7 linked regions of the Homo sapiens genome follow. The protein of the gene in region 1 purifies or fractionates together with the protein of each later gene. This does not show direct contact. Each region holds a gene or a part of one and is shown in the gene's direction. Other genes may lie near its edges. The genes, in order: POF1B, INF2, TCTN2, POMK, BACH1, SRSF4 and OLFM4.

The links.
Region 2: the proteins of POF1B (region 1) and INF2 purify together in Homo sapiens (co-immunoprecipitation; one large-scale study listed by IntAct). This does not show direct contact.
Region 3: the proteins of POF1B (region 1) and TCTN2 purify together in Homo sapiens (co-immunoprecipitation; one large-scale study listed by IntAct). This does not show direct contact.
Region 4: the proteins of POF1B (region 1) and POMK purify together in Homo sapiens (co-immunoprecipitation; one large-scale study listed by IntAct). This does not show direct contact.
Region 5: the proteins of POF1B (region 1) and BACH1 purify together in Homo sapiens (co-immunoprecipitation; one large-scale study listed by IntAct). This does not show direct contact.
Region 6: the proteins of POF1B (region 1) and SRSF4 purify together in Homo sapiens (co-immunoprecipitation; one large-scale study listed by IntAct). This does not show direct contact.
Region 7: the proteins of POF1B (region 1) and OLFM4 purify together in Homo sapiens (co-immunoprecipitation; one large-scale study listed by IntAct). This does not show direct contact.

What each region holds. Positions count from the first base shown.
Region 1 is NC_000023.11:85,282,166-85,286,509, reverse strand, and holds part of POF1B (protein POF1B), read left to right. Parts: intron 1-4,192; coding exon 4,193-4,307; coding exon of another isoform or gene 4,308-4,331; exon of another isoform or gene 4,332-4,344. UniProt on the Homo sapiens protein: Plays a key role in the organization of epithelial monolayers by regulating the actin cytoskeleton. May be involved in ovary development.
Region 2 is NC_000014.9:104,695,466-104,699,809, forward strand, and holds part of INF2 (inverted formin-2), read left to right. Parts: intron 1-4,344.
Region 3 is NC_000012.12:123,691,329-123,695,672, forward strand, and holds part of TCTN2 (tectonic-2 isoform 1 precursor), read left to right. Parts: intron 1-1,329; coding exon 1,330-1,395; intron 1,396-3,513; coding exon 3,514-3,648; intron 3,649-3,891; coding exon 3,892-3,969; intron 3,970-4,344.
Region 4 is NC_000008.11:43,120,420-43,124,473, forward strand, and holds the end of POMK (protein O-mannose kinase), read left to right. Parts: intron 1-1,687; coding exon 1,688-2,458; 3' UTR 2,459-3,015; downstream 3,016-4,054. UniProt on the Homo sapiens protein: Protein O-mannose kinase that specifically mediates phosphorylation at the 6-position of an O-mannose of the trisaccharide (N-acetylgalactosamine (GalNAc)-beta-1,3-N-acetylglucosamine (GlcNAc)-beta-1,4-mannose) to generate phosphorylated O-mannosyl trisaccharide (N-acetylgalactosamine-beta-1,3-N-acetylglucosamine-beta-1,4-(phosphate-6-)mannose).
Region 5 is NC_000021.9:29,304,984-29,309,327, forward strand, and holds part of BACH1 (transcription regulator protein BACH1), read left to right. Parts: intron 1-220; exon of another isoform or gene 221-339; intron 340-4,344. UniProt on the Homo sapiens protein: Transcriptional regulator that acts as a repressor or activator, depending on the context. Binds to NF-E2 DNA binding sites. Plays important roles in coordinating transcription activation and repression by MAFK.
Region 6 is NC_000001.11:29,157,371-29,161,714, reverse strand, and holds part of SRSF4 (serine/arginine-rich splicing factor 4), read left to right. Parts: intron 1-919; exon of another isoform or gene 920-1,153; coding exon of another isoform or gene 1,154-1,197; coding exon 1,198-1,340; intron 1,341-1,704; exon of another isoform or gene 1,705-1,851; intron 1,852-2,228; coding exon 2,229-2,341; intron 2,342-4,344. UniProt on the Homo sapiens protein: Plays a role in alternative splice site selection during pre-mRNA splicing. Represses the splicing of MAPT/Tau exon 10.
Region 7 is NC_000013.11:53,048,915-53,053,131, forward strand, and holds the end of OLFM4 (olfactomedin-4 precursor), read left to right. Parts: intron 1-1,054; coding exon 1,055-1,857; 3' UTR 1,858-3,143; downstream 3,144-4,217. UniProt on the Homo sapiens protein: May promote proliferation of pancreatic cancer cells by favoring the transition from the S to G2/M phase. In myeloid leukemic cell lines, inhibits cell growth and induces cell differentiation and apoptosis.

The sequences.
Region 1 (4,344 bases):
GTTTTTATCAAATTTAACAATCTTTGCTTTTTAATTGAGTGTTTAGGCAATACATATCTATATGGATAGATTTAAATTTACTATCTTGCTATTTGTTTTCTATTTACCTCACATTTTCTTTCTTTCTCTTTTCCTCTCTTCTTTTGGATGAATTATTTCTTCATGTTTCATTTAACCTATTTTATTAGCTTATTAGGTATACTTCTTTCTTTTGTTTGCTGTAGGGTTCATAATATTCTTCAAGTGATCACTGCCGACTTCCAATAATATTATATCCCATCACATGTAGCATAACAACTCTGTAATAATCAACTTCCATTTCCTTCATATGACTAATATGACTTCTACTATTTTTATCATATAAACTTCTTTCACATATATTATTAGCCCCTAAATACATTATTGTTTTTGTTTTCAACAGCCAACTATCTTTTAAAGAAATGTTAACAATAAGAAAAACAATGTTGTAAATTTACCTACATATTTATCTTTTCTGGTGCTATGTATTACTTTGATCAAATTCAAATTTCTATCTTGTATCATTTTCCCTTTGCCTTAAAAACTTCTTTTAACATTTTTTATCATGCTTCTCTGGTGAAGACTTCTTTTGGCCTTTTAAGTCTAAAAACAGTCTTTATCAATTCTTCATTATTCAAAAGTATTTTTGTTGTGTATAGACGAGTAAGCTGGTCATTTTTAAAAATTTTTTATTATACTTTAACTTCTAGGGTACATGTGCACAATGTGCAGGATTGTTACATATGTATACATGTGCCATGTTGGTGTGCTGCACCCATTAACTCATCATTTGTATTAGGTATATCTCCTAATGCTATCCCTTCCCCCTCCCCCCACCCCACGACAGGCCCCAGTGTGTGATCTTCCCCAACCTGTGTCCAAGTGTTCTCATTGTTCAATTCCCACCTATGAGTGAGAACATGTGGTGTTTGGTTTTCTGTCCTTGCGGTAGTTTGCTCAGAATTATGGTTTCCAGCTTCATCCATGTCCCTACAAAGGACGTGAACTCATCCTTTTTTATGGCTGCATAGTATTCCATGGTGTATATGTGCCACATTTTCTTAATCCAGTCTATCATTGATGGACATTTGGGTTGGTTCCAAGTCTTTGCTGTTGTGAATAGTGCCACAATAAACATACGTGTGCATACGTCTTTATAGCAGCATGATTTATAATCCGTTGGGTATATACCCAGTAATGGGATGGCTGGGTCAAATGGTATTTCTAGTTCTAGATCCTTGAGGGATCGCCACACTGTCTTCCACAATGGCTGAACTAGTTTACAGTCCTGCCAACGGTGTAAAAGTATTCCTATTTCTCCACATCCTCTCCAGCACCTGTTGTTTCCTGACTTTTTAATGATCGCCATTCTAAGTGGCCTGAGATCACTGTGGTTTTAATTTGCATTTCTCTGATGGCCAGTGATGGTGAGCATTTTTTTCATGTGTCTGTTGGCTGCATAAATGTCTTCTTTTGAGAAGTGTCTGTTCATATCCTTTGCCCACTTTTTGATGGGGATGTTTGATTTTTTCTTGTAAATTTGTTTGAGTTCTTTGTAGATTCTGTATATTAGCCCTTTGTCAGATGGGTAGATTGTAAAAATTTTCTCCCATTCTGTAGGTTGCCTGTTCACTCTGATAGTAGTTTCTTTTGCTGTGCAGAAGCTCTTGAGTTTAATTAGATCCCATCTGTCAATTTTGGCTTTTGTTGCCATTGCTTTTGGTGTTTTAGTCATGAAGTCTTTGCCCACGCCTATGTCCTGAATGGTATTGCCTAGGTTTTCTTCTAGGGTTTTTATGGTTTTAGGTCTAACATTTAAGTCTTTAATCCATCTTGAATTAATTTTTGTATAAGGTGTAAGGAAGGGATCCAGTTTCAGCTTTCTACATATGGCTAGCCAGTTTTCCCAGCACCATTTATTAAAAAGGGAATCCTTTCCCCATTTATTGTTTTTGTCAGATTTGTCAAAGATCAGGTGATTGTAGATGTGTGGTATTATTTCTGAGGGCTCTGTTCTGTTCCATTGGTCTATATTTCTGTTTTGGTACCAGTACCATGCTGTTTTGGTTACTGTAGCATTGTAGTATAGTTTGAAGTCAGGTAGCGTGATGCCTCCGGCTTTTTTCTTTTGGCTTAGGTTTTTCTTGGTAATGTGGGCTCTTTTTTGGTTCCATATGAACTTTAAAGTAATTTTTTCCAATTCTGTGAAAAAAGTCATTGGTAGCTTGATGGGGATGGCATTGAATCTATAAATTACCTTGGGCAGTATGGCCATTTTCACGATATTGATTCTTCCTACCCATGAGCATGGACTGTTCTTCCATTTGTTTGTGTTCTCTTTTATTTCCTTGAGCAGTTGTTTGTAGTTCTTGAAGAGGTCCTTCACATCTCTTGTAAGTTGGATTCCTAGGTATTTTATTCTCTTTGAAGCAATTGTGAATGGGAGTTCACTCGTGATTTGGCTCTCTGTTTGTCTGTTATTGGTGTATAGGAATGCTTGTGATTTTTGCACATTGATTTTGTATCCTGAGACTTTGCTGAAGTTGCTTATCAGCTTAAGGAGATTTTTTACATTTTTTTTAAAAAAGTACTTTAACAATATTGCTCTTCTGTCTTCTGACTTTCATTGTGACTGAGAAGTTTTTTGTTAATCTTATGATTTTTGTTCTTTGAATAATGTCCTTTCTTCTCTGAGGCTGTTTTTAAGATTCTCTTTCACTGGTTTTCAAGAATTTGATAATGATGTGCCTCTCTGTAGTTTTCTTCATGTTTCTTTTTTTCACGTTCACTGAGCTTCTTGGATACGTGTGTTTATAGCTTTACATCATGCTTGGAAATAATTTGGTCATTATGTCAATTATTTTTTTCCACCACCAATCCTGCAGGACTTTAATTATATATATATGAGGACATTTGATATTTTCCACAGTTATTTCATGCTGCATTCATTTTTTTCCGTTTTCTTTTATGTTTTATTTTAAATTATTTATTTTGATGTATTAAAATTTATCGGTCTTTTTGTAATGCAGTGCCTAATCTGCTGTTAACTCCACCTAATTTTTTTAATGTTTAGTAGTCCAATGTGGATCTTTTTTATATTATCTATTTCTCTCCTGTGTTCATGCTTTCCTCTAACTTCTTGAATATACCTTGTATATTTTATATGTTTCTAATAGATGCACATTTACCTACTAATTTTTTTATCAGTGTTGTCTCTTGGTCTGTTTCTACTAATTTATATTTCTCTTCATTATTAGTCGTATCGTCCATTGCATGACTATTCATTTTTCGTTGAATGCCATGAATTGTGATTTTATATTGTTGAGTTTTAGATTTTCGCTAGGGTATTACTTAAAATATTTGGAGTTTTGTTCTGAGATGAAATTATTTGGAAACAATTTAATACATCCAAGCCTTGCTTTTAAACTCTTTGAGAATAACCTGTACTTTGAGGCTAATTTTATCCCACTACTAAGGCAATATTCTGCAGTATCTATCTGATGGCCTCTATATCAGGAGAGCTTTTCACTCTGGTTTTGTTAGTGGAACACAAAACATTACCATCCCTATGAGAGCTCCCAAAATTGCCAGCCTGCTCCTTTCTAGTCATTATTTCCTAAGTCTTGGTAGCTTCTTCACATACAGGCACACTGATCAGTTTTCACCCAAAGGCTTTTGGGAAAACCTCTACAGCTGTCCTGACCTCTCTCTATCTATGTAGCTCTCTTCTGTCTGATACTCTGCCCCACAAACTCTGGGTGCCTTTGCCTATATTTACTCTAAACTTTATCACCTTATCTTGGTGAGACTGCTGGGATCTGTTTAGCTTCCTTTTACTTATCCCGTGACCAAGAAAATCTCTCCAGGCAGTGAGCTAGGCACTTGTAGGGCCCATATCATTTGCTTCCCTTTTCTGGGGTCACTGTCCTGTGCTGCCAGTCGTCCATCATGGCCAGAAACAGAAGTCCCTCTATTTTATTTTCTTGAAAATAATGGTTGTACATCTCTGTCCATTGAAATAGGGTTTTTTTATTTTTTTGTTTTTTCAGTAACAGTTAAAAAGTCATTCAGAGCCGAATTGGCTTAATTAGGGCAATCAAACTAGGAGTGACTAAAAAGGAATGAAAGTTATTTTCTCATGCAGCCTGTAAACTAACTCTTTTCTTGCCAACAGGTACAGGACACAATATCCAATCCTAGGCCTCCTATATGATGACTACGAATATATACCACCAGGTAGTGAAACACAGACTATTGTGATTGAGAAAACAGAAGACAAATACACTTGTGTAAGTTCACTTGGGCATTTTTAGCCCTATTTTGACG
Region 2 (4,344 bases), on another chromosome or scaffold:
CCGCCCACCCACCCAGGCCCTGCACACCCTCAGTGCAGGTGGAAGCGAGAGCTGGGCTTCCTGGCGTGGGGCCTCCGCCCTTCCTGTCCTCCCTTGCCTGGGCTGCGCTTGCCGACTCTCCTCCCAGTGACCCCTCCTCCCAGTGAGCCGGGGCATTTCCTGTTTGCTGCATCCCCCTACCCCCCCTACAGAGTCACCCTCCTCCCTGTGGCTTCCACAGGGCTCTGTTCCTAACCCAGGAAGATGTACCTTCCCCAGGCCCATTGTCTGCCCCAGATCCTGGGGACACAGAGAGCCCAGCTGTAGCCTGGCTCCCGGGCCAGTGGTGTCCCCTGGCGTTCAGTGCTGGCCAGCCCGGACCCCCCAGCCACCTCCACCGACACTTGCCAGAGTGCCATGAAGGACCCCTGGCCCCCAGCTCTGCTCTCTGGGTGACCCAAGCAGGGGCTACCACCGCTCTGAGCCCAGCTTCCCTCTGTGAGATGTTGCTGTCTTTTGATCATTTTGCTTGCTTTCTTCCTCAGTATGAAACGACCATATTCATCCGAGATGCAGCTTCAGTTAGTGATTGGGCAGGTGTCCCGGTGGTATCGCACCCACCATGTGATTGAAATCCGTCACCATGCGGCCTGCTTCCCATCTTTGTCTTCTGATCATGATGCTGCTGAGAGCGCCTTTCTGCCCACCTGCTCCCAGGGGGCCCTTCTGTCCTGCTGTGGGTCCTCACAGTGGCCCGGGGGCCCTCTTTGCACAACAAGCGGAGTTCAAGATCTTGGAGGGCTTTGGAGGCAGGAGCCTTGCACTCCATCCAGATCTTGGGGACTGCAGGTGGCATGAGGGCTGGAGTGCTTCTTGGGTGTGAGACGGGCCAGGTGACAGTGAGGACACAGCCAGCCCTCACCAAGGCCCAGTGCGCCCCATGCCCCTGGACACGTGGCAGTGGGTGGACCCCCATCCTCACCTGCCTTGAGGCCCCCTGTGCACAGACCCTCCCTGGGCCTTGCCGGCAGTTGGTGAGCCACCAGGTCAGTAGAGGTCCCTCAAGGGGCTGTTGGCCTGGTGGGGAAGGTGACACATGCTGGAGGCTCAAAGGAGCTGGGAGTCTGAGTGTGAGGGAGGGGAATGGGGGTCATGGTAGGGCAGGTTCAGCTCCAGGTGCCTCCACCGCCCTGCAGGGCCTGGGCTGCCCAGAACCCCGGGGTGCTGCCAGGAACGCGTGCAGTCCTGGAGATCCATGGGTTGCCAAGCAGTGGAAAAATTGGGGCTCTCGGAGGAGCTAAAAATACAGTGTGGCAGCCCCTGCCTCCTAGTTCCGGAATCCTCTCCTGCCGTTCTGCCCACCCACCCCGTGGAAGACAAGCTCCCTCCCTGCACCCCCACCACCAACGCTGGCTCAGGGCCCAGAAGCACCCAGCCCTGTGCCAGTGCCAGAAGGGCGACACCACAGCTGCCTGCCCACTCCCAGGCAGCAGCCCCCCACAGGTGCTCATGTGCCCAGCCAGTGCCTGCCCTACCCCCGCCACTGCTTCAGGGTCCCCAGAGCCCCTTGGTCCCAGGCACAGTAGGCAGTACCTGCCACCCCAGGGCTGCCAGGCTCAGGGCTTGGCCTGTTCCTCGTGGGGAGCCTGGACCCAGGCAGACCTCTCCCTTCCCTACCAGTGGGGACTTCACAGGGGAGGGGGCTGTCCCAGGCAGACTCAGAACATGTCACAGCGGGGGCCTCCAGGCCCATTGGTGCTGGCCGAGGGCATAGGAGCTCCCACACTGTGCTGTGGAAGGCCCTCCTCGCCTGGCTCCTGGGAGGCAAGTGAGGGAGCCGAGGCCTGGGGGCTTCAGTGGCTGGCTCAGGTCCCTCGCGTGCTGGGATTCAAGTCTGGGTACCCTAACCCTGGCCTGTGTGCCGCTCAGAACCATGGGCCCATGCAGGAGCCCCCAGCTACTCTCCACAGCTCGGTGCTGGGCCTGCCTCAGGAGCCCACACTCCCTGGCTCTGGTTTTCTGTCTGCACCGCAGGGGCTAGGCACATGGCTGCAGGTCTAGTGAAGGCCAGCATGGCCCTGTCCCCACCCACACCACACACTCAGCTTGACTGTTGACTGCTAGGCGGGGCGGTGGCCCGGTGGCTTCCCGAGAGTCAGTGCAGCTGCCCTAGCATGTAGGCATTCGGATGGAGGTGCTGGCATCACCACACCAGGCTGGCCAGGCCCAGGCCCAGAGGGGGACCCTGCCTGCCAGAGCTAGAGTCAGGGGAGAGGCATGGCCCCGTCCTCTGGAAGCCCCAGGCTATTGGTTGACAAAAGCAAGTGCTGAAGAACCATGGTGATGTCCCACTAGCATGGGTGGGGTGAGCCCCTCAGACCTCAGAGTCTTCATCTGCAAAAGACCCTGCCCTGTGCAGTTCCATTGGTGCTGGTGGACTGCCGGGGGGGGTGGATGGGACGCCCCTTCTTGGTGCCCTGACCCTTTTGCTGTCCAAGGCATGGGGTCTGGCCTGAGCCATGGGTACTGGGCCCTGCAGAGCCTGGATGGTCCTGCCCTGCCTCAGCCAGAGCTGGTGCCGGCTGTAGAAAAGATTGCGAAGAACGCAAATTCCTGTGCCTGTGGGGAGGTGGCCACGCCCTACAGCCGGGGCTGGGGAGCTCTGAGGACACATTCCTGCGCTGGTGGCCCCGCCAACCCACTTTCCAGATGGAGAGCAGAGGGGAAGGGTAGCCTGCCCAGGGGCACACAGCTCAGCAATGAGACTCCCGCCCCCTTCCCTTCTCAGTTGGCACTGGCACCTTCCAGCGTATTGTTCCCCATAGCCCCGTGCCCCTGAGATCAGTAAACTGTGGATTCCTTCTGGAATCCTTGCAGAAGTGGACACCACCCCCCAGTGAGAACAGGCAAGGCTGTTTTTGCAGAGCTCGCTGTAGCAGGGAGTCGGCCACCGCCACCCGCGTTTAGCAGAGACTCACAGGCGGGCGGGGGAGTGGGAAGCCTCATGGTTTTCTCATATGGATAATTCACTCTATACATAGAAAGCTTTTTATAGACACAGGGAAGGCTCGGGGATGCCCTGAGAGAGGCTGCTGGCTGGAATTTGGGCTCCTATGAGATGAGACAAAAATCACAGAAGCTGTCAGTTATTACCCAGGTCCCAGCCATTTGGGGCCAGTGGCCAGATTGCGGGTCAGAGTGCTGCATATATGGTCTGGCCGTGGTGTGTTTGCAGGTTCAGCCTCATGCTGAAAAGCAGTTGGAACATTCTCCGGTGTAGAGCCTGACGGGGGGCCTGGGTGAGATCGGGCAGCCTTGGCAGCACCACAGAAGGAGGAGAGCAGCTCCGGCCTCAGCCTCCGGGGCCTCAGCCGGAGCCCTGTCTATGCCGGGCCGCAGCCCAGCGAGACCCTGTTACACTCACTGCCCCCAGACAGCACCCGGTGGGACACGGCCAGCTGGGGCAGCTCAGACACAGAGCCAGGCACCCAGGCACGGGGGTATAGGAACCTGATGGGCAGGAGGGCCAGTTTCCTCCCACCGTGGCTCCACCCCACTGACCAAGGGGGATCCTCTTGACTGGGGTCTTTCAGGGGCTTGCACAGGGCAAGGAGCGCTGGGCAGTGCCAAGAGGGGCAGTACTCAGGTCAGGGAGCATCTTCTGTGTCCAGGGACACCCTGGGGCCTGGGGCACGGTGGCTCTCGGCGGCACTGCTTGTCTCTAAAAGGTCAGGATTTTTTGCATGGAGGGACCCCCGGGGCTCTTGGCTGGAGAGGACACTCTGGATGCCAGGGGCCGGGCCTGGGAGAGTTCATAACTCCGTCCACTCAGCCTGTGCCAAGGGGACAGGGACTCCGGCCAATGGAGGCGGGGGAGGAAAGGAGGGTCAGTTCTGGGGCCTCTTTAGGCAGCAACAGCCAAGGCGGGTGGGAATATATGCAGAGGCCCGGCTGCCTGGCTCTTCATGGTGGTGGGAGCAACCCTACTGCCACCAGGAGGGGCGTTGGGGACCTGAGGCTGCCTGGGAGGGACCCGGCTGTCTCTGGCAGCTCAGCGGTCAGCAGCGATGAGAAGCCAGGGGAGCGTGAGGAGCAGCCCAGGACAGGGCCCAGAGTGGGTGGGCAGAGGTGGCCGGAAGGTCTTGCGCATCTGGGTGAGTGGACGGCCACTGGGTGACCAAGAGGGCCGGGCCTGGGAGGGTGGCTTAAAACCACAGTGCACCGGGGGCTCCGGGCTCTCCGTTCTACAGTGCCCAGACCAGGACCCCCTGCAGGGAGGAGGGGCATCCCAAGGACAGCCTCTCAGGATGCTCCTGGCAGCCTGGTGCTGGAGGTGCAGAAGAAGAAACTGAGGCCCAGGCAGGA
Region 3 (4,344 bases), on another chromosome or scaffold:
AGCCACCAATCTGCTTTCTGTCTCCGTGGATTGCTTATTCTGGGTGTTCCCTAGAAACAGAATCATACACTATGTGGCCTTTTGTGTCTGGCTTCTTTCACTGAGCATGGTGTTCCATGGTTCATCCGTGTTTGTAGTGTGTGGCAGCACTTCATTCCTTTTTATGGCTGAATCATAGTCCATTGCATGGACAGAGCACATTGTGTTTGTCCATTCCTCAGTTGATGGACATGTGGGTTGTTTTCATCTCTGACTGTTGTGAATAGTGCTGCCATGAACACTCGTGTCCAAGTTTTTGCGTAGATGTGTGTTTTTATTTCTTTTGGGTAGACACCTAGGAGTGGAACTGACAGGTCATGCTAATATGACTTCTTGAGGACCCACCAAATTGTTTTTTTTTTGTTTTTTTGGTTTTTTTTTTGAGAGGGAGTCTTGCTCTGTCACCCAGGCTGGAGTGCAGTGACGTGATCTCGGCTCGCTGCAACCTCCACCTCCCTGGTTCAAGCGATTCCCCTGCCTCAGCCTCCCAAGTAGCTGAGATTACAGGCATGTGCCACCACACCTGGCTAATTTTTTTTTTTTTGAGACCAAGTCTTGCTCTTGTCCGCCAGGCTGGAGTGCGATGGCGCGATCTCGGCTCACGGCAACCTCCACCTCCTGGGTTCAAGCGATTCTCCTGCCTCAGCCTCCCGAGTAGCTGGGATTACAGGCACCCACCACCACGCCCTGCTAATTTTTGTATTTTTAGTAGAGACGAAGTTTAGTAGAGATGGGATTTCACCATGTTGGCCAGGCAGATCTCGAACTCCTGACCTCAGGTGATCCACCCACCTCGGCCTCCCAGAGTGCTGGGATTACGGGCATGAGCCACCACGCCCGGCTAATTTTTTTGTATTTTTAGTAGAGAGGAGGTTTCACCATGTTGGCCAGACTGGTCTCAAACTGACCTCAGGCAATCTGCCTGCCTCGGCCTCCCAAAGTGCTGGGATTATAGGCGTGAGCCCCTGCGCCTGGCCAATTGTTTTCTACAGTGTCTGCACCATTTTGTATTGCCACCAGCAGTGAACTGCATATTTGTTTTTATGTCACAGTGACCCTGGTTTTTGTTTGTTTGTGTGTTTGTTGTGGATTTTCTTCCTCCGTTATAATTAGATGCTAAGAGGATGGGGACTCCTATCTGATGGTTTTTGGGGAGTGGGGAGGGTTTTGTAGTCAGCACCCTGGGCAGTTGCGGTCACCATATTTGCTTTGTAAGCTATACTTTGAGTAAGTGTGATCATGGTAGGCCATGTGTACGCCTGTGGAAGTTAATTTATGTTATCTCTTTAGGCATAGTTACACCAAAAGTGATCTATGAGGAAGCAACTGACCTAGACAAATTCATCACCAATACAGGTATTTAATGTTACACTTTGACGTCATTTCTTCAGAAACAGATATGTCATTTCTTACAAGTAATATATACCCTCAGAGTGTATATTTTTGTTAGTCATTTAAAAAGGTTCACAATAGTTAGAAAGATCTGCCAGGAACATTTCATTTGTTCCTCGTTCTGTCCTGCTGGGCTTTAGAGTGCTCTCTGTGACCTTGAGCCTGCTCCTCCACAGTCCTGGATTCTCTGAGTTCCACCGACCCTTCTAGTTCCAGCTTCCGTGAACCTTTCCTTAAATGTTTGATAGTTAAATAATTCTTTTTTTTTTTTTTTTTTTTTTTTTGAGGCGGAGTTTTGTTCTTGTCACCCAGGCTGGAGTGCAATGGCATGATCTCGGCTCACTGCAACCTCCGCCTCCTGAGTTCAAGTGATTCTCCTGCCTCAGCCCCCTGAGTAGCTGGGATTATAGTCACCCGCCACCACACCCAGCTAATTTTGTATTTTTAGTAGAGACGGGGTTTCTCCCTGTTGGTCAGGCTGGTCTCGAACTCCCGACCTCAGGTGATCCACTTGCCTTGGCCTCCCAAAGTGCTGGGATTATAGGTGTGAGCCACCGCGCCCGACCAGTTAAAAGAACTTTTTAGGGCACAGCATTTTCACTTTTTGCTTTCTTTCCTTTTTTTTTTTTTTTTTTTTTGATAATTAAACTTTCCAATTGTGATGCAGCCAAATAAGTTACGTAGAGTTTGGCAGATTTTTTTTTTTTTTTTGAGATGGATTCTTGCTCTGTCACCCAGGCTGGAGTGCAGTGGTGTAATCTTGGCTCACTATAACCTCCACTTCCTGGGTTCAAGCAGTTCTCCTGCCTCAGTCTCCCAAGTAGCTGGGATTACAGGTGTTCACCACCATATGCCTGGCTAATTTTTGTATTTTAGTAGAGACGGGGTTTCACCATGTTGGCCAGGCTGGTTTCGAACTCCTGACCTCAGGTGATCCACCTGCCTTGGCCTCCCAAAGTGCAGGGGTTACAGGCGTGAGCCACGGCGACTGGCTCAGTTTGGCTAATTTTACCAGAACTTTAGTTTTTAATGAAGGATACTGTTTGTTTCTTTCTTTTCTTTTTTTTTTTTAATTGGAGACAGAGTCTTGCTCTGTCGCCCAGGCTGGAGTGCAATAGGGTGATCTCAGCTCACTGTACCCTCCACCTCCCAGGTTCAAGCAATTCTCATGCCTTAGCCTCCTGAGTAGCTGGGATTACAGGCACCTGCCACCAATCCCGGCTAATTTTTGTATTTTTTTGTATTTTTTTTTTTTTGAGACAGTCTCACTGTCACCCAGACTGGAGTGTAGTGACACAGTCTCCACTCACTGCAACCTCTGCCTCCTGGGTTCAAACGATTCTTCTGCCTCAGCCTCCCGAGTAGCTGGGATTACAGGTGCCTGCCCCCATGCCTGGCTGATTTTTTGTATTGTTAGTAGAGAGGGGGTTTCACTGTGTTGGCCAGGCTGGTCTTGAACTCCTGACCTCGTGATCTGCCTGCCTCAGCCTCCCAAAGTGCTGGGATTACAGGCGTGAGCCACCGCACCCGGCCTAATTTTTGTATTTTTAGTAGAGACAGGGTTTCGCCATGCTGGCCAGGCTGGTCTCGAACTCTTGACCTCAGGTGATCTGCCCACCTCGGCCTCCCCAAGTGCTGGGTGTCTCTTTCTGATGTGTTGTACTTCTCAAATTTATTCATTGGCTCATCAAATGTTAGTGGAGTTCCTACGCCGTAGTAGGGAACTAGATAGCGGGCCCCTGCCCTGGCGGAACTGACCCTCTGGTCTTTCATCTCACAAACATTTTACCAAGTGCATGCTCCATGGCAAGCTATGAGCCAGGTGCTGGAGATATAGAAATGAAAGGAACAGATCTCATTCTGGGTACTGTGATGGCATAGAGGAGGCAGCTAATGCTGACTTGGTGGGACCAGGGCAGGCTTCCTCAAGGAAGCAGTGACCGTGCCATGTTAGGGAGCTGGAGATAGGGAGGGCAGGGGCAGGGCACTTGGGGAAGGCCACGCAAGCAGAGAGAACCTCCCAGTAACAGAGTCAGGCTCAAAGAGGGTCTTTAATTTATGAACATATTCTTGTATTTGCAGAAACTCCTTTAAATAACGGATCAACCCCTAGAATTGTGAATGTGGAAGAACATTATATTTTCAAATGGAATAATAATACCATCAGTGAAATAAATGTTAAAATTTTTAGGGCAGAGATTAATGCCCACCAGAAAGGTAACTTTGATGAGGGTAGCAAGCATGCTTTCACTGAAAAGTATTTTTTTTTCCTCTTTTCAAGATTCTCATAATTATAACCCATAAAACTAAGTTGGACTTGTTTCTTATGTGCATTTATGATTTAATTAACGAGAGTACACTTTGTATGACAAAATGCAATTTTAAGGTAAACACTATGGAGAATAATTTCTTTTCCTAGTGAAATGGTGCACATTATATTTTATTTTGTTTTATTTCTAGGGATAATGACACAGAGATTTGTAGTAAAATTTTTAAGCTATAATAGTGGTAATGAAGAAGAATTATCTGGAAATCCAGGTAAGATGAGTATATGCCAGTCATTGATCTTACAAACATACTTTAGTTCAACACTCCCAGCCATCAGGATGGTTATAAGTAACTCTCTCCAATTTAGTTTCTGACTCTGACCTTTTTCTTTATTTTCTCTTTTTCTTTTTTTGAGACGGAGTCTTGCTCTGTTGCCTAGTCTGGAGTGCAGTGGCGCAATCTCGGCTCACTGCAACCTGCACCTCCTGGGTTCAAGAGATTTTCTTGCCTCAGCCTCCTGAGTAGCTGGGATTACAGGTGCACACCACCATGCCTGGCTTTTTTTTTTTTTTTTTAATCACACAACACAGGAAGTTTTATTCATCTGCTACTTCTCCAAAGAGAGGCTTGCAGGGTTGCTCACTT
Region 4 (4,054 bases), on another chromosome or scaffold:
CATGTTGGCTAGGCTGGTCTCCAACTCCTGACCTCAGGTGATCTGCCTGCCTTGGCTTCCAAAAGTGCTGGGATTATAGGTATGAGCCACCGCACCCAGCCGTACCATTACTTTTATCTGTTATAACTGTATAAATATATACATTTTGGTGACCGCATGATATATATATATATTGAATGATCCTCCCACCTCAGCCTCCCCTGAGTAGCTGGGGGTACATGTACGCTCCATTACACCCTGCTTGTTTCTTAATTTCTTTCTTTTTTTTTTTTTTTGAGACAGAGTTTCACTCTTGTTGCCCAGGCTGGAGCACAGTGGCGTGATCTTGGCTTACGGCAACCTCTGCCTCCCGGGTTCAAGTGATTCTCCTGCCTCAGCCTCCCAGGTAGCTGGGATTACAGGCATGCACCACCACGCCTGGCTAATTTTGTATTTTTAGTAGAGTCAGGGTTTCTCCATGTTGGTCAGGCTGGTCTTGAATTCCTGACCTCAGGTGATCCACCCGCCTTGGCCTCCCAAAGTGTTGGAATTACAGGTGTGAGCCACCACGCCTGGCCCACCCTGCTAGTTTCTAAAAAATGTTTTGTAGAGATGGGTTCTCACTATGTTGATCATGCTGCTCCCATCTTTTGATAAGTTTCAGTGTATGCTTTTATAAATAATGTCAGATTTTTATTCCTGGAGCTTCTTACCTATTTCCGATTATTGCCTTAGATTTAGATGTTAGAGTCTCTTGATAAATAATGCAAAAAACTGCTTTGGAAACCATAACCTTTATTTGAACAATGACATGGCACACTGCTTGCAGAATGAGCCTGGGGCAGGAATCTCCTGAGTCCTGAGCCTGCTTTCTCTTTTGTAATCTTCTGCCTTCTCTTGGGATTTAAGCAAAAGATCAGAGGTTCTTCCTTTAATTACAGTGCTTCCTGCAAGCAAATGAAAGGTGAAAATCCAAGGCAGAAATGTGAACTTGCTCTTCTATTAGCTGTGGACTCTATGAGAAGGTCTAGTGTTTATGTAGCATTTCAGCTCCTGCCTTTACAGCTGAAGTAACACCAAACCACAGAACATGCAAAAATGTTTTCCTTACATATAAATGTTCCTATTTATGATTTACTATGCCACCTTTTAAAATTAATGAGTAACATTGTTACACGTGATGGGCAGGGCTCTACGCCCTCATGTAGGCTTTTCGGGGTCTCCACACTTACCCACTTTTCCAGTCCACTCCCCTGCCTCCTCTTCCTCCCCACCCACTGTGTGGTGGTCCATTGGAACTGGCAGTCTACTTGCCACTCCTCCCTGCCATGCAGTTATATGGAGTCTTCCCTCCTGAGCTAGCACTCCCCTGCCCTACATTGAATCTGCAGGTCCCCCTCGTTCTATGAGACCAGCTTCCCAAAGCCTTCCAGCACCCTCTGCAGCAGCTCTCAGTGTCCTGCCCAGAGGCAATCGCTTCCTGCCCTGAGGTTCCACCCACTAATGTGGCACTTGCCTTGCTGAATGCTGTGTTTGCTCATCGGTCTCTCTTCATAACTAGACGGAGAGCAACTCTACGATGGGGTCTGCACCTTGTTAATTTCTGTATCTTCTGCAGAACACCTGCCACTTAAAAGATATTTGTTGTTCTTTGGTCACTAAATTAGGTGAGAGTTCAGGCCTGATGCTCTCTATGGCTTTGTTGCAGGTCTTTCTGTCTGAGTGGAAGGAGCACAAAGTTGCACTCTCACAGCTCACCAGCCTGGAGATGAAAGATGATTTCCTCCATGGACTGCAGATGCTGAAATCTCTCCAAGGCACACATGTTGTCACGCTGCTTGGCTATTGTGAGGATGACAACACTATGCTTACTGAATATCACCCTCTAGGTTCCTTGAGTAACCTGGAAGAAACACTAAACCTTTCAAAGTACCAAAATGTGAACACGTGGCAGCACAGGCTGGAGCTGGCCATGGACTATGTCAGCATCATTAATTACCTGCACCACAGCCCTGTGGGCACACGGGTCATGTGCGACTCCAACGACCTGCCGAAGACACTGTCCCAGTATCTGCTAACAAGCAACTTCAGCATTTTGGCAAATGACTTGGACGCCTTACCCCTGGTGAACCACAGCTCCGGGATGCTGGTGAAGTGCGGCCACAGGGAGCTGCATGGGGATTTCGTGGCTCCAGAGCAACTGTGGCCCTATGGAGAGGACGTGCCTTTCCACGATGATCTCATGCCCTCATATGATGAGAAGATTGACATTTGGAAGATCCCAGACATCTCCAGTTTCCTTCTGGGGCACATTGAAGGGAGTGATATGGTCCGATTCCATTTGTTTGATATTCACAAAGCATGCAAGAGCCAGACTCCCTCAGAAAGACCCACTGCCCAGGACGTTCTGGAGACCTACCAGAAGGTCTTGGATACACTTAGAGATGCCATGATGTCTCAGGCAAGAGAGATGCTGTGAAAACCAGTCCAGCCAATGAAGGTGGGATTGAAGGGCTGAATGGAAGTTACAGCATTCTACTCTGATGGTGGAGTTTTTTGCCTGAGTTTCGTGTTTTATTGTTTTTTTTATGGCTTAGCCATGTGGTTCGTTGTCCACATCCACATGTACGTTTGTATGTAGTCCACATTGGTTGTTAGATTTTTTTTTTTTTCTTTGAGATGCGGTCTTGCTCTGTTGCTGAGGCTGGAGTGCAGTGATGTGATCTTGGCTCACTGCAGCCTCTGCCTCCCAGGTTCAAGCAATTCTCCCACCTCAGCCTCCTGAGTAGCTGGGATTACAGGCACACCACCACGCCTGGCTAATTTTTGTATTTTTAGTGGAGGTGGGGTTTCACCATGTTGGCCAGGCTGGTCCCGAACTCCTGACTTCCTCGGCCTCCCAAAGTGTTGGGATTACAGGCATGGGCCACTATGCCTGGCCAGTTGTTAGATTTCCATGGATTTGTAGTTTCCAAAGTTTCTCGTTATTGATTTCTACTTTTCTTCCATTGTGGTCTGAGAAGGTACTTGATATGATTTAGATTTTTAAAAATTTATTGAGACTTGTTTTGTGGTCTAACATATGGTCTATGCTGCAGAATGGTCCATGTGCTGATGAGAAGAATGTATATTCTGCAGCTGTTGGAAGAAAGGGTCTGTAAATGTCTGTTAGGTCCATTTGGTCTATAATGCAGATTAAGTCTGATGTTTCTTTCTAGATGATCTGCCCAATACTGAAAGTGAGGCATTAAAATCCCCTGCTTTTTTTTGTATTAGGATCTGCCTCTCTCTTTAGCTCTAATAGTGTTTGTTTATACATGTGAGTACTTTGGTATTGGGTGCATATATATTTAAAATTGTTACATCCTTTTGCTGAATTGATCCCTTTTTCATTATGTAATGATCTTCTTTGTCCCTTTTTATGTTTTCTGACTTAGTCTATTATGAATAAGTATAGCTACTCCTGCACATTTTTGGTTTAAATTTGCACGGAATATTTTTTTCCATCTGTTCACTTTCAGTCTATATGTGTTTTTACATGTGAAGTGAGTTTGTTATAGGTAACATATAGTTGAATCTTGTTTTTTTAAAATCCATTCAGCCAGTCTATGTATTTTAATTGGAGAATTTAAATTATTTACATTCAGGGTTTTTATTGATAGGTGAGGACTTAGTCCTGTGCATTTGTTTTCTGATTGTCTTGTATATATTTTTTCCTATCTTTTTTATTTATTTTTATTTTTTATTTTGAGACAGAGTGTTGCTGTGTCTCCCAGGCTGGAGTGCAGTGGCAGGATCTCGGCTCACTGCAACCTCTGCCTCCCAAGTTCAAGCAATTCTCCTGCCTCAACCTCCCAAGTGGCTGGGATTACAGGTGCCCACCACCACACCCAGCTAATTTTTGTACTTTTAGTAGAGATGGGGTTTCACCTATCTTCTTTTGTATTGTTTACTTTACAATTTGGTGGTTTTTTAAATAGTCATAATGTTTGATTCCTTTTTCTCATTTGTGTTTCTGTTCTATTAGTGAGTTTTAAGCCTTTGTTTGTTTTCATGATGGTAGATACCATCCTGT
Region 5 (4,344 bases), on another chromosome or scaffold:
ATTATTTTAAAAAATGTACAGTGGTTATCTGATCTTGGCCCAGGCCTCTTCAATTTCCAGTGTACCTGATGTCTCTTTATCAACTGTTTTTCTGAGGTGTATCTCAGCCTGGCCTTGGGTACTCCCCTAGGTAAGAGTCATAATTCAGGTTAAAAGAGGTAAGAAAAAAAAAAGCTTTTGGCTTTTGTAATCTTGTTTTTTTTTTTTTCTTTCACATTAGCAAAAGACTGTTGAAGTAGAGAGCATTTTGCCCAGCTCACTCGGATTCTTTGCTGGCATGCCTTCAGTTTCAGTTGTCATCCAGAGAAGTCAAAGGAAATGCTGCTTGGGGATGAGCATGTAATTACGATTAACTTTCCCTACTTCGTTGTCTCTTTGTGGTAAAAGACTGTCACAAGTGCTATTCAAACTATAGGTATTTTTTTTTAGATTTCTAAAAAGTATATTTTGTCTCTGAGGGCCTCCTGTCTTTGGACTAGTTTGTCTTTTTCCAGACCCCAGAAAGGCTGGGCCACCTTTTCTTCTTTGAGCAGGTTGGCAACAGTGGTCACAAATAGCAGAGGAGCTGAGATTCTAGAGAGCTATCCTACCACTGCTTCTCAGATGCCAGTGTGGAAACAGCCTCTTCTTTTTTGTTGAATTAGCTTGGAACAGCTCTCTAATCTCTGAAGAGTGAGGAAAAACTGTGTTTTTAAGTTTCAAGGCTAAGGCACTGTGTTCTCTTTTCTCCCTGTTCCTGCTGCTGTTCTCCCCCAACTCACATGAACGCATACTTAACTTTCAGTGTATGTGGACAGTAGGGTTGCTAAATTCATGTCAATATTTGTGGCATTCCTACATGTTAGGCATTTGGTTTACATTTAACTTATGAAACAAATGTTTAGGCTTTTATAAGCCAGGAACTTTTCCAGATATTGGCAATAATGAACTTTTCAGAAGTTACAGTCTAATAGACAGGCAAACTATTCCCATAGCATGCTATAGTAGCAACATGTAAAATGTGCTGTGGAACCACAGACTATTAAAAGCCTAAGTTTTGGGAAATCAAGAAAGCCTTAGGGATGTTTAGTGATGAATGCATAGGTTAGTGGAGGAAACAACTTGTATCAACTCAATTTGAGAAGCTTAGCTGTGAATAAGAGGAGAGAGAAATAGATTTTAGTAGGGAGAAGTTGGGTCAGGAAGAGTGTGTGTGTGTGTGTGTGTGTGTGTGTGTGTGTGTGTGTGTATTTAAAAATCCAGTCAATGGAAAAAGGTTGAAGATGCAGGCAACGTCCTTGTTTTGTCCTTGGCAAGTTCCTCTTATGGTTGCAAGATGGCTGCCACAAGTTCAAGTGTCACAAGAAAATATGACTTAAGTTTCCTGGAAGAAGACACACTTTTTTTTTTTTTTTCCTAGGTTGTTGCTATCAGTGAGAAAAATTTTTCCCTAAAGCCTCATAGCAGATGCTACCTTGTCCCTCTCTCCTCTCTTCATAGGTCAGCATTGCACACAAGCCAGTGCCTAAATGAGTCAAGGTCAAGGGGAATAGTACCGCTGTGATTGGCATAAATGGATCGTGATTCATCTTAGGTTGTGGCTGGGGTCTACTTCCTTGGAAGTTGATGGCCTCGGGTTGAGAGTAGATACGTGAGCACAGTCAGGGTTTGGTTAGAAAGTGAGGGGGTGAATGGTGTTGTGCAGTTAACAGTGACATCCTTGTCTACTAGTTCTGCCACCACTACACTTAGATACAAACTTCGGAGGAGAAAAAGAAAATGTGCTTGCCTTTGGATTTGGAATTTTAGGTGACTTTTTTTCCTCTTATATGCCATTTCCTTCTATGATCAAGTAGCACTTTTACAATCAAATCAAATCAATGGTTTATTTAAAAATTATTTAAAAATTGAAAATGCCAATTTTGTCAATAAATATATATAGAAGAAATAATTTTTTTTTTCAATGCTTTAAACATTTCAAAAGTTCCCTGCCATTGTCTTATTCCTTTCAGGGAGAGGAGAACATATAATTATATCTTGTAGTTTCTGATTATGTGTATACTAAGAGGACTACTCTGTCCCTCAGTCCATAGTGCACACCCACCTGTGGTCTCTATGGCTTGCACTGAGTGCTGAGGCCAGCCTGGCTCAGATAGAATTGTTAGTTCATTGGCTAGATGGGTCAGGATTCTTTAGAATGCAAATTCTTGAATCAGGAGTACAAACAGGAACATCTTCCCTTTTCTACACACTCATTCCCCTCCTCGAAGGGAAAGCTGTCCCGTAGTTAGCTTATTCGTCATTCTTTTCAGACTTTAAAATTAATGCCACCTTAAGTTTATACAGTATTCTTGTAGTACTCCTAACTTTTCTGTTTTGCTGTATGTGTACATTGTAGAAAGATTAAATCAAGCTAATTAACATGTCCATTACCTCACTTACCTTTGTGTGTGTGTGTGTGTGTGGTGAGAACCTTTAAATCTACTCTCTTAGCAATTTTGAAATACAGTAGGATCCCCACCCACTGTTTTACTTTCAGCAGTTTGTTACCTGTGGTCAGATGAAGTCCAAAAATATTAAATACAATAGATATTTTGAGAAAGAGACAAACATCACATTCACATAACTTTTATTACAGTATATGGTTATAATTGTTGTATTTTATTATTGTTAATCTCTTACTGTGCTTGATGAAAAAGCATAGTATATATATAGGGTTTGTTACTATCTGCAGTTTCAGGTATCCACTGGGGTTCTTGGAATGTATCCCCTGTAGATAAGGGGGACACCTGTGTATGTTGTTACAAGTATGATCACTGTGTAAAAGCACTTTTGTATTTCATTCTTGTTCCTTCTCAATCGCAGGTCTGGGTGCTTTCTGTGCTGTGAAAGGCAGACAAATAATGTAAATCCTAAACACTTGAGTGTTGTAAATTTACAAAATGAGAATTGCTCAATGGTTGTTTCTTTTTGAGAGTAACAAATAGACTGTGATAAATGGCCAGAGTAGGCTTCTGAACTGGTATTAGTTTTTTGGATAGAATTTAGAAAGACTTGTACTACCAATATAATTTTTGTCTCAGATAAATGCAATAGTATTTCCCTACTCAGTAGTTCCTCAGATGCTATTTAAACTGAGCTATATTTCAGCTTTATTTATAGGCTGCAAATTGTTCCTTATTTGGCTGAATCTTGTGGTTATGATATAATGAAAAGTAGTTACTGAGATCACTGGTGCAAATCTGTAGCTTGGAAATCCTCATTTTAGAAATGATTATTTTGACTCCCAAGTTAAATAGTAAAAAATAGACTTATGTTTTTAGTTTTAGCTATGTATATTGAGAAACTGTGGCCCTACGGTGGCTGTTAGGGATTAGTGGATTAGGTTGTTTTTAAATAAGACATTTCAGTTTAGTATCTCTACTTGAATAAAACAGTTTCAAATTTGTGATTCATATGATATACTGATTGCCCTACGGTAACTTCTGTTTTATTTAATTAAAATTGTTAACATTCTTTTTTATACTCTTAAGCACCTCCCTCCACCCTCACCCCCCTTTTTGACTCAAATTTTATTGTGAGTTGGTGTATAGTTAGGAATTTGAAGAGCACTTTTTTTGTTTATTTTATCTTTTCGGTTACTATGCATACTATGTGTGTCAACTCTTAAACCTGCAGGGGGTCATTTTGGCCATCAACTAGTTTTAGGGCTTTCGCCTCCTAAAGAATATGAATTATGGTTGTAATTTTTACAGTTTAAAAAACAAGATGGCATATGAAGAATCTTTATTTCATTATGAAAATAGAACATGGATGCTTAATCCTCTGTATTGAAAGTAACTTGTAGTGAAATACTTCCTAGTGTTCTCTTCTTCTAGTTGTCCATATGTAGTATGTATAACTATAGACCTTGATGATTTAAGTTGAGCACAGTTTAGTGTCAGGTTCCTTTCAGTGATGCATGAGATTGGTTATATGATCTAGTGAGTGTTATTTAGAAATTAATTCACCAGACCCGGGTGTGGTGGCTCATGCCTGTAATCCCAGCACTATGGGAGGGCGAGGCAGGCAGATCACCTGAGGTCAGGAGTTCGAGACCAGCCTGGCCAACATGGTGAAACCCTGTCTCTACTAAAAATATGAAAATTATCTGGGCGTGGTGATGCTCGCCTGCAATCCCAGCTACTTGGGAGGCTGAGGCATGAGAATTGCTTGAACCTGGGGGACAGGTGTTACAGTGAGCCAAGATTGTGCCACTGCACTCCAGCCTGGGTGACAGAGTGAGACTCTGTCTCAAAAAAAAAAAAAAAAGAAAGATTCACCAAATATTGATTAATAAGGGGAAATTTGTTGTTCCACAAATGC
Region 6 (4,344 bases), on another chromosome or scaffold:
AGGCAGGAGAATCACTTGAACCCAGGAGGTGGAGGTTGCAGTGAGCTGAGATCGCACCACTGCGCTCCAGCCTGGGCGACAGCGAGACTCTGTCTCAAAAAATAAAATAAATAAATAAATAAGTAAACTGGAATCATTTTTTGTCAGCAGGCTGAGTGACCCTCTGACAAGTCTTGTAACTTGTTTGTAGTGTCAGTGTGTTTAAATGCAGAGGAACACTAGTCTGTGTGCCCGTGTACACACAGCCTTACTAGAGTTTAAAGAAATTGCTTGTAACTTTCCTTTCTGATTAGTTATGATCAATAAGATGGTTTTGGTTTTTAAATATAGGCAATGGTCACAAAGCTGGACTTTTCACAGCTGTGTCAGACCAAACTAAATATTTCTTGAAAACATAATTTACAGGGCATTTGTATAACCTTGCTTATAAGTATCTTACAAATTTTGCACTTTAGCTATATAAATTGTACTCTTTAATAGGCATTAGTAGGATGGTGGGGGTTCTTTTGGTTATATGTTAAGCCACCAAACCTCTTGGCTGGAAAAGATGTAGCAATACCATTTAAAGAAGTTTGCACGAGTTGTATACAGATTTCAGAGAATTCCATCCTATTCTAAAACTTCATGGAAATGAATTTGGAATCTCACAGGGAAGTAAACAGCTCCAGTCTTTTTTTCACTGATAATCACATGTGACAGATGTGTTTACGTAGAGGAACAGGAACCTTAAAAAAAAGTTTTTTACTTTCACATGATTCAACAGTTATTACACAGTGCCTGAATGTAGGTCTAATTGTTCTCTAAGATACCACTTTTAAAGCTAAAAAAGATGAGTTTTATGTGGTGTTTGAAAGAGCGTTATATGTCTTGTAGCATTATATATTTTGGATTCTTATACCAAGCATCCCTGTCTTTGCAGTTGCCACCAACTACTTGGGAAACAAAAGAAGTGTCCTGTGTATGTAGCCAGCCTCCTCCTAGAAAGATAGGAGTCTACTTTGAGAAGTCTCCCTACCTCTTTCAGTGCCTGTTGGCACAAAGCAAAGTGGTTTCACCTGAAGAGAAGACAAAGTTGATCCTTAGTTTGCAAAATCCACCTAACCTTTGCTAAGCATGAACCTCATTGCTTTCTCTTTAATGTTAGTGAAGCTGGATGTCAAAATGGTACCAACCAGTATTTTCTTTGCTCTCTTCTAGATATGGTTTTGTGGAGTTTGATGATCTGCGTGATGCAGATGATGCTGTTTATGAACTGAATGGCAAAGACCTTTGTGGTGAGCGAGTAATTGTTGAGCATGCCCGCGGCCCACGGCGAGATGGCAGTTACGGTTCTGGACGCAGTAAGCATTCAAAGGGCATACTTTTATCAGTAACGTGCTTTTGTTATCATGCTAATTTTTAAAGTAATTAATTGATATTACATTTAAACGTATTGATGTTTAAGCTATTTTGTAAATTATGTATCTTTTTTAAAAATGTAGAATTACAAATAAGCCTTTGATAATGTTTAATTTTAATTAAACTAATGACAATTTCTTGTTTATAATACTTTATAAATATGTTTAATGATGTGTGTTTGTGTTGTTGTTGTTTTTTTCTCTGTAATGCAATTGTTTAACATAGATTTAACAAAGACCTCAATGTTTTAATTAAAAGAATCCTTTGAGGCTAAGATGACTGCCTGTTCCATTTGCTGACCTTGGGTTACCTTTCCATGCGTGGCTCTTTGAACCATTGTGGCCCTTGGCTGACCAAAAACAGGAAGCCATGTGACGACCGCAACCTTTCCCCATTAGACCTGGGTGGTGAGGATCCCAAGGGTTAGACACAGATGAGATTAAACTGAAATAGGTGCCTGAAAATCTTTTTTTTTCCATATAAAATATTCACAAAATGTTTAATCACTGTGAGTAACACCAGTAACTGATTTAGTAATTTGGTTACTTATTTCTAAATTGTTAAATTGTTAATAGTTTTAAATTTATGCATGTTAATCTTAAATGCAAATATTAATGAATATGTATACTTACAACTTTTTAAATTAAATGTTTATATTTAGCTGATTGCTTCTTTAAAAATCTATTTTAGAATTAAGGGTGGGAATAGAGTTAAAACGTGCTATTGTTTGGGGTGGGGGTAAATAATATATTTAAGGGGGGGTGTGTGCTGTGTCATTTTTTTTCCTTTTCTTCCACTGAAATAATCTTATTTATTTGAACCTTCCAAAGGTGGATATGGTTATAGAAGAAGTGGCCGAGATAAATATGGCCCTCCTACTCGCACAGAGTACAGACTTATTGTGGAGAATTTGTCAAGTCGGTGCAGCTGGCAAGACCTAAAGGTTTGGGCCCCATTAACCTTTTGGGGTAAGGTTGGGCAGGAGTTAAAGTTGGGAAACAGGTAGATTTGTGCAGGCCCAGGCATACACAAAATACAGTGTTATATGTTTGAAAGCCTGCACAGAGCTGGAAATAATTAAAGTGCCATATGAGTACAAAATATATCAGAATTATATTCCTGCTATACATTGTGGGACCATCATTCTAAGGACACATTTGTGAGTTTGGTTTGGTTTGGTTTGGTTTGGTTTGGTTTGGTTTGGTTTGTTTGAGATGGAGTCTCGCTGTGTTGCCCAGGCTGGAGTGCAGTGGCACCATCTCTGCTCACTGCAGCCTCCGCCTCCCGGGTTCAAGCAATTCTCCATCTCAGCTTCCTGAGTAGCTGGGATTACAGGCACCCGCCACCATGCCCGGGTAATTTTTTTGTATTTTTAGTAGAGACGAGGTTTCACCATCTTGAACTCCTGACCTTGTGATCCACCCGCCTCAGCCTCCCAAAGTGCTGGGATTACAGGCGTGAGCCACCGCGCCCGGCCTGATTTTGTTTTGTTACAGAGTCTCTGTTGCCTAGGCTGGAGTGCAGAGGCACAATCATGGCTCAGAGATTGGTTGTCACTATGTTACCCCGACTGGTCTCGAACTCCTGGCCTCAAGTGATCCTTCAGTCTCAGCCTCCTCAAGTGCTGACATGACAGAAACCTGGCCCAAATGTGTGATAACGAAATTTCTCTCTGTAAAGAATGTTTGAAACCCTGTCTCTACTTAAAAAGATACAAAAATTAGCCGGGCGTGGTGGTGGGCACCTGTAGTCCCAGCTACTTGGGAGGCTGAGGCAAGAGAATTGCTTGAACCTGGAAGGTGGAGGTTGTAGTGAGCCAAAATCATGCCACTGCACTCCAGCCTGGGCAGTAGAGCAGGACTCTGTCTCAAAAAAAAAAAAAAGGGTTACAAGAAGATGGCAGTGTAGCTACTCACCAGTCAATAAAATGGTTGAAACCATCAGTGTTTCCTGCAGCATTTGCTATAACATGCAAATTCACATCAGCTTCAGTGTGTATCCTTACTGGTGAAATTGACAATCTGACCCATGTTTTTTCATAAGGTTTTTGATGGAATATTTGTCCTGAAAGAGGTTTGGTGTCAAGAATTAAGATTCAGTGCTAATGTTGGCCATCCAGTGTACTGGTTCCAGCTTTTTTTTTTTTTTGAGATGGAGTCTCGCCCTTTCGCCTAGGCTGGAGTGCAGTGGCGCCATCTCAGCTCACTGCAACCTCCGCCTCTGGGGTTCAAGTAGTTCTGCCTCAGCCCTCTGAGTAACTGGGATTACAAGTGCATGCCACCATGCCCGGCCAATTTTTGTATTTTAGTAGAGGCGGGGTTTCACCATGTTGACCAGGCTGGTCTCGAGCTCCTCCTGACCACAAGTGATCCACCTGCCTTGGCCTCCTAAAGTGCTGGGATTACAGGCGTGAGCCACTGCACCCGGCCCCACTTATTGACAACAGTGTTTTTAATCTCAATAGGAAGAAAAACTTACTGAGCAGTATCATAATCTGAATGGTCTTAGGAGGATGCATGAAACAGGTTTTGTTTTCTGTCTCCCTTCTCGCTTTTTTTGGCCATATTTAAACAAGTCATCTCTAGCCAAATGAGTGAAGTGTATTTAGGTTCAGGAAAGAATAGTTAGGAATCCTTTACATTTGTATAGTTTAATTTAAAGCACTTTTTTGTTTTTCTTTTTAAAATTTAATCCCAGCAACCTTCAAGTAACATGCAGAAGAGCTGGGACCAGGACTCCTGACTCCCAGTCTGCTGTTTTTTCAGGTGCATCATGCTTATCGTCAGCACCGTAGCAGACCTTTACTGAATGTCTGCCAGCAAGATTCTGCTTGCTGAAGGAATGACTCCAGTATTCTGAGAGTTAGGGATTGAACATCATGGGTAGAAACTGGAAAGCTACTCTCTTCATCAGTAGAATGCTAACTCGTCATGTAGTGCCACTAAA
Region 7 (4,217 bases), on another chromosome or scaffold:
TTGGATAGTTATTATAAAAATACTGGAGGAACTTTATTTTATTTTTATAGCTCATAAACTCCTGGGATGGCAGGCATTTCAGCGGGAGTACAATGTGAAGGGTTGATCGCCCAGACTGAGTTATTTACCCAAGTGTTACAGGGAATGTAGATTCAGTGGACCAGTGAATCTTGTCCCACTTGATTGTACACATTGTGACAATGACAGTGTCTGGATGGAAAGATGAAATACTTGCATGTCATTCTATGGCACAATAGCATATGGGTTATGAACAGCAGGACTCACCATGTAACTCTGCAGCAGGACGGTCAGCAAGTGATTTATTGATGGGCTGTGCATTGGGTACGGAGCAGGCAATGTTGCCCCAAAATAACTTTATGGCTTCTCAAGGGTGAAATCCCACCATTATAGGACCATCTTTCTGGATCTATAAAATGCTATATTTAAAACATCCTCTTCTGAGAATAGCTTAAAGCAGGATTGGTACCTGGCGTGGATGTGCAATTGGGGGTCCCAAGGAAGGGGAGAGTGAGGAAGGGCATGAAGCCTTGCCTGGGAAAATCTTCTCCCTCATCACTATTCTTTCTGGGATAGATTTCTATAAATCTTGTGGATTTATAGAAATAGGGTAGGATTGTGGAATAATCTTGCTTCCTTGATTTTGCTATAAGAAAAACAAAATAAGATAATATTTGCAAAATGCTTTCTGATAGAAGGAAATATATTAAATTCACCAAGTCTCCCTTTCCTCTCTCTGGGCCTCCAAACTTTTTAAATATAGTTCTTGCTGGTTTCATTATTCCTATTTTCCAGATTGAAAGCCCACCCATGGAAACAGAATGTAGTTCTCTGTAGAGCTGACATTGGGTTTGCATTGAGACTGAATGCACTGAACTAAGAGGAGGTTTGGCTCTTCTCCATCAGAACCACTGTTGTTATTGAACCTTGACAGGAAAAATATTTATAGATTCCTTTGGTGCTTAGGATATTAAACTATTTGTATCCTGTCATTCCTTTTCTCTAAAAATGCCTTTTTATTTTCTTGTTTGTATAGGGAGCTGTGGTCATGGTGGTGTGGTGAACATCAGCAAACCGTCTGTGGTTCAGCTCAACTGGAGAGGGTTTTCTTATCTATATGGTGCTTGGGGTAGGGATTACTCTCCCCAGCATCCAAACAAAGGACTGTATTGGGTGGCGCCATTGAATACAGATGGGAGACTGTTGGAGTATTATAGACTGTACAACACACTGGATGATTTGCTATTGTATATAAATGCTCGAGAGTTGCGGATCACCTATGGCCAAGGTAGTGGTACAGCAGTTTACAACAACAACATGTACGTCAACATGTACAACACCGGGAATATTGCCAGAGTTAACCTGACCACCAACACGATTGCTGTGACTCAAACTCTCCCTAATGCTGCCTATAATAACCGCTTTTCATATGCTAATGTTGCTTGGCAAGATATTGACTTTGCTGTGGATGAGAATGGATTGTGGGTTATTTATTCAACTGAAGCCAGCACTGGTAACATGGTGATTAGTAAACTCAATGACACCACACTTCAGGTGCTAAACACTTGGTATACCAAGCAGTATAAACCATCTGCTTCTAACGCCTTCATGGTATGTGGGGTTCTGTATGCCACCCGTACTATGAACACCAGAACAGAAGAGATTTTTTACTATTATGACACAAACACAGGGAAAGAGGGCAAACTAGACATTGTAATGCATAAGATGCAGGAAAAAGTGCAGAGCATTAACTATAACCCTTTTGACCAGAAACTTTATGTCTATAACGATGGTTACCTTCTGAATTATGATCTTTCTGTCTTGCAGAAGCCCCAGTAAGCTGTTTAGGAGTTAGGGTGAAAGAGAAAATGTTTGTTGAAAAAATAGTCTTCTCCACTTACTTAGATATCTGCAGGGGTGTCTAAAAGTGTGTTCATTTTGCAGCAATGTTTAGGTGCATAGTTCTACCACACTAGAGATCTAGGACATTTGTCTTGATTTGGTGAGTTCTCTTGGGAATCATCTGCCTCTTCAGGCGCATTTTGCAATAAAGTCTGTCTAGGGTGGGATTGTCAGAGGTCTAGGGGCACTGTGGGCCTAGTGAAGCCTACTGTGAGGAGGCTTCACTAGAAGCCTTAAATTAGGAATTAAGGAACTTAAAACTCAGTATGGCGTCTAGGGATTCTTTGTACAGGAAATATTGCCCAATGACTAGTCCTCATCCATGTAGCACCACTAATTCTTCCATGCCTGGAAGAAACCTGGGGACTTAGTTAGGTAGATTAATATCTGGAGCTCCTCGAGGGACCAAATCTCCAACTTTTTTTTCCCCTCACTAGCACCTGGAATGATGCTTTGTATGTGGCAGATAAGTAAATTTGGCATGCTTATATATTCTACATCTGTAAAGTGCTGAGTTTTATGGAGAGAGGCCTTTTTATGCATTAAATTGTACATGGCAAATAAATCCCAGAAGGATCTGTAGATGAGGCACCTGCTTTTTCTTTTCTCTCATTGTCCACCTTACTAAAAGTCAGTAGAATCTTCTACCTCATAACTTCCTTCCAAAGGCAGCTCAGAAGATTAGAACCAGACTTACTAACCAATTCCACCCCCCACCAACCCCCTTCTACTGCCTACTTTAAAAAAATTAATAGTTTTCTATGGAACTGATCTAAGATTAGAAAAATTAATTTTCTTTAATTTCATTATGAACTTTTATTTACATGACTCTAAGACTATAAGAAAATCTGATGGCAGTGACAAAGTGCTAGCATTTATTGTTATCTAATAAAGACCTTGGAGCATATGTGCAACTTATGAGTGTATCAGTTGTTGCATGTAATTTTTGCCTTTGTTTAAGCCTGGAACTTGTAAGAAAATGAAAATTTAATTTTTTTTTCTAGGACGAGCTATAGAAAAGCTATTGAGAGTATCTAGTTAATCAGTGCAGTAGTTGGAAACCTTGCTGGTGTATGTGATGTGCTTCTGTGCTTTTGAATGACTTTATCATCTAGTCTTTGTCTATTTTTCCTTTGATGTTCAAGTCCTAGTCTATAGGATTGGCAGTTTAAATGCTTTACTCCCCCTTTTAAAATAAATGATTAAAATGTGCTTTGAAAAAAGTCATCTTTTGTTTTATTTAATTTTAATTTTTTTTTAAAGCTCTTAACAGGGTAGTCCATATCTTGCTATGAGGTTGGGAGAATGGCTACCTCCCAAACACTAGTGCGGGGAGATTGCACACCTAACAACAGATCACATCAATAACTTTTATAAGAGCCCAGAGTTAGGCTGGCTCTTTCATTTTTCTTTCCCTTTAAAATCCACTCTTTCTGGCAGCTTTTATTGTACATGACTGCCCTATTATCTTTTGGGATATGACCTTATGTACTTATTAATTTGCATGACTGATCTGATTATTTCCAATGCTAGACTACATTTATGTAGCTTATGTTCCTTTTCCAATTGAGCTATGAACATGGATCAGAAGCCTCTGGATCTTCCCCAGACAGGAGGACTTGGGCAGAAAGCAAAAGGACTAACTGGCTATACCAGGAAGAGAAGTACCTTTACCAAAGAGAATATGTAAGAAGACAGGTGACCTAGAGCTGGAAGGACACAGTGGACTGATGTAGTTAGTCTTACTGAAATGCTCATTTTGGATCCTTGCCAAACTTTTTGAGACAGATGGCAGCTATAATATTTAGTATTTTAGTAAGATTTTTCCCTATCTCTTCAGGGCTGAGTGTAGAGACAGGTATGCCCTTCAAAATGCAACAAGATATGAAGATAAAGACATGTATGTCATGTGAGATACAAGTTAAAAACCAGGATGTTATATTTAATCTGGCTCTAGGCAGTTTTCCAGATCAATGTTTTGTACCAAGTACACAGTATGACCTCTGAAGATTCAGGAAAGGAGGCAGGAAGCCAAGGTAACCCTAGCAATCAGCTTCTTATTTGAACTGCTACAGAAGCATTTGCCTGAAAAAATTCACTTCCCAGCCTCTTTCTCACTGGACGTGGTGTATCAGCCTGCAGTGGCTGCCTGCAGGAAATCTCCCTGCAGGGAAGGTTGAAGGACTCAGGGATTCAGGCTCCTGGGTTTACCGCAGTGCAGTTACACAATGGGAAATTTAGCTCCAGATTCATCAGCTACTGCCTGTTTTGAAATTTACATATATATATTATAAACA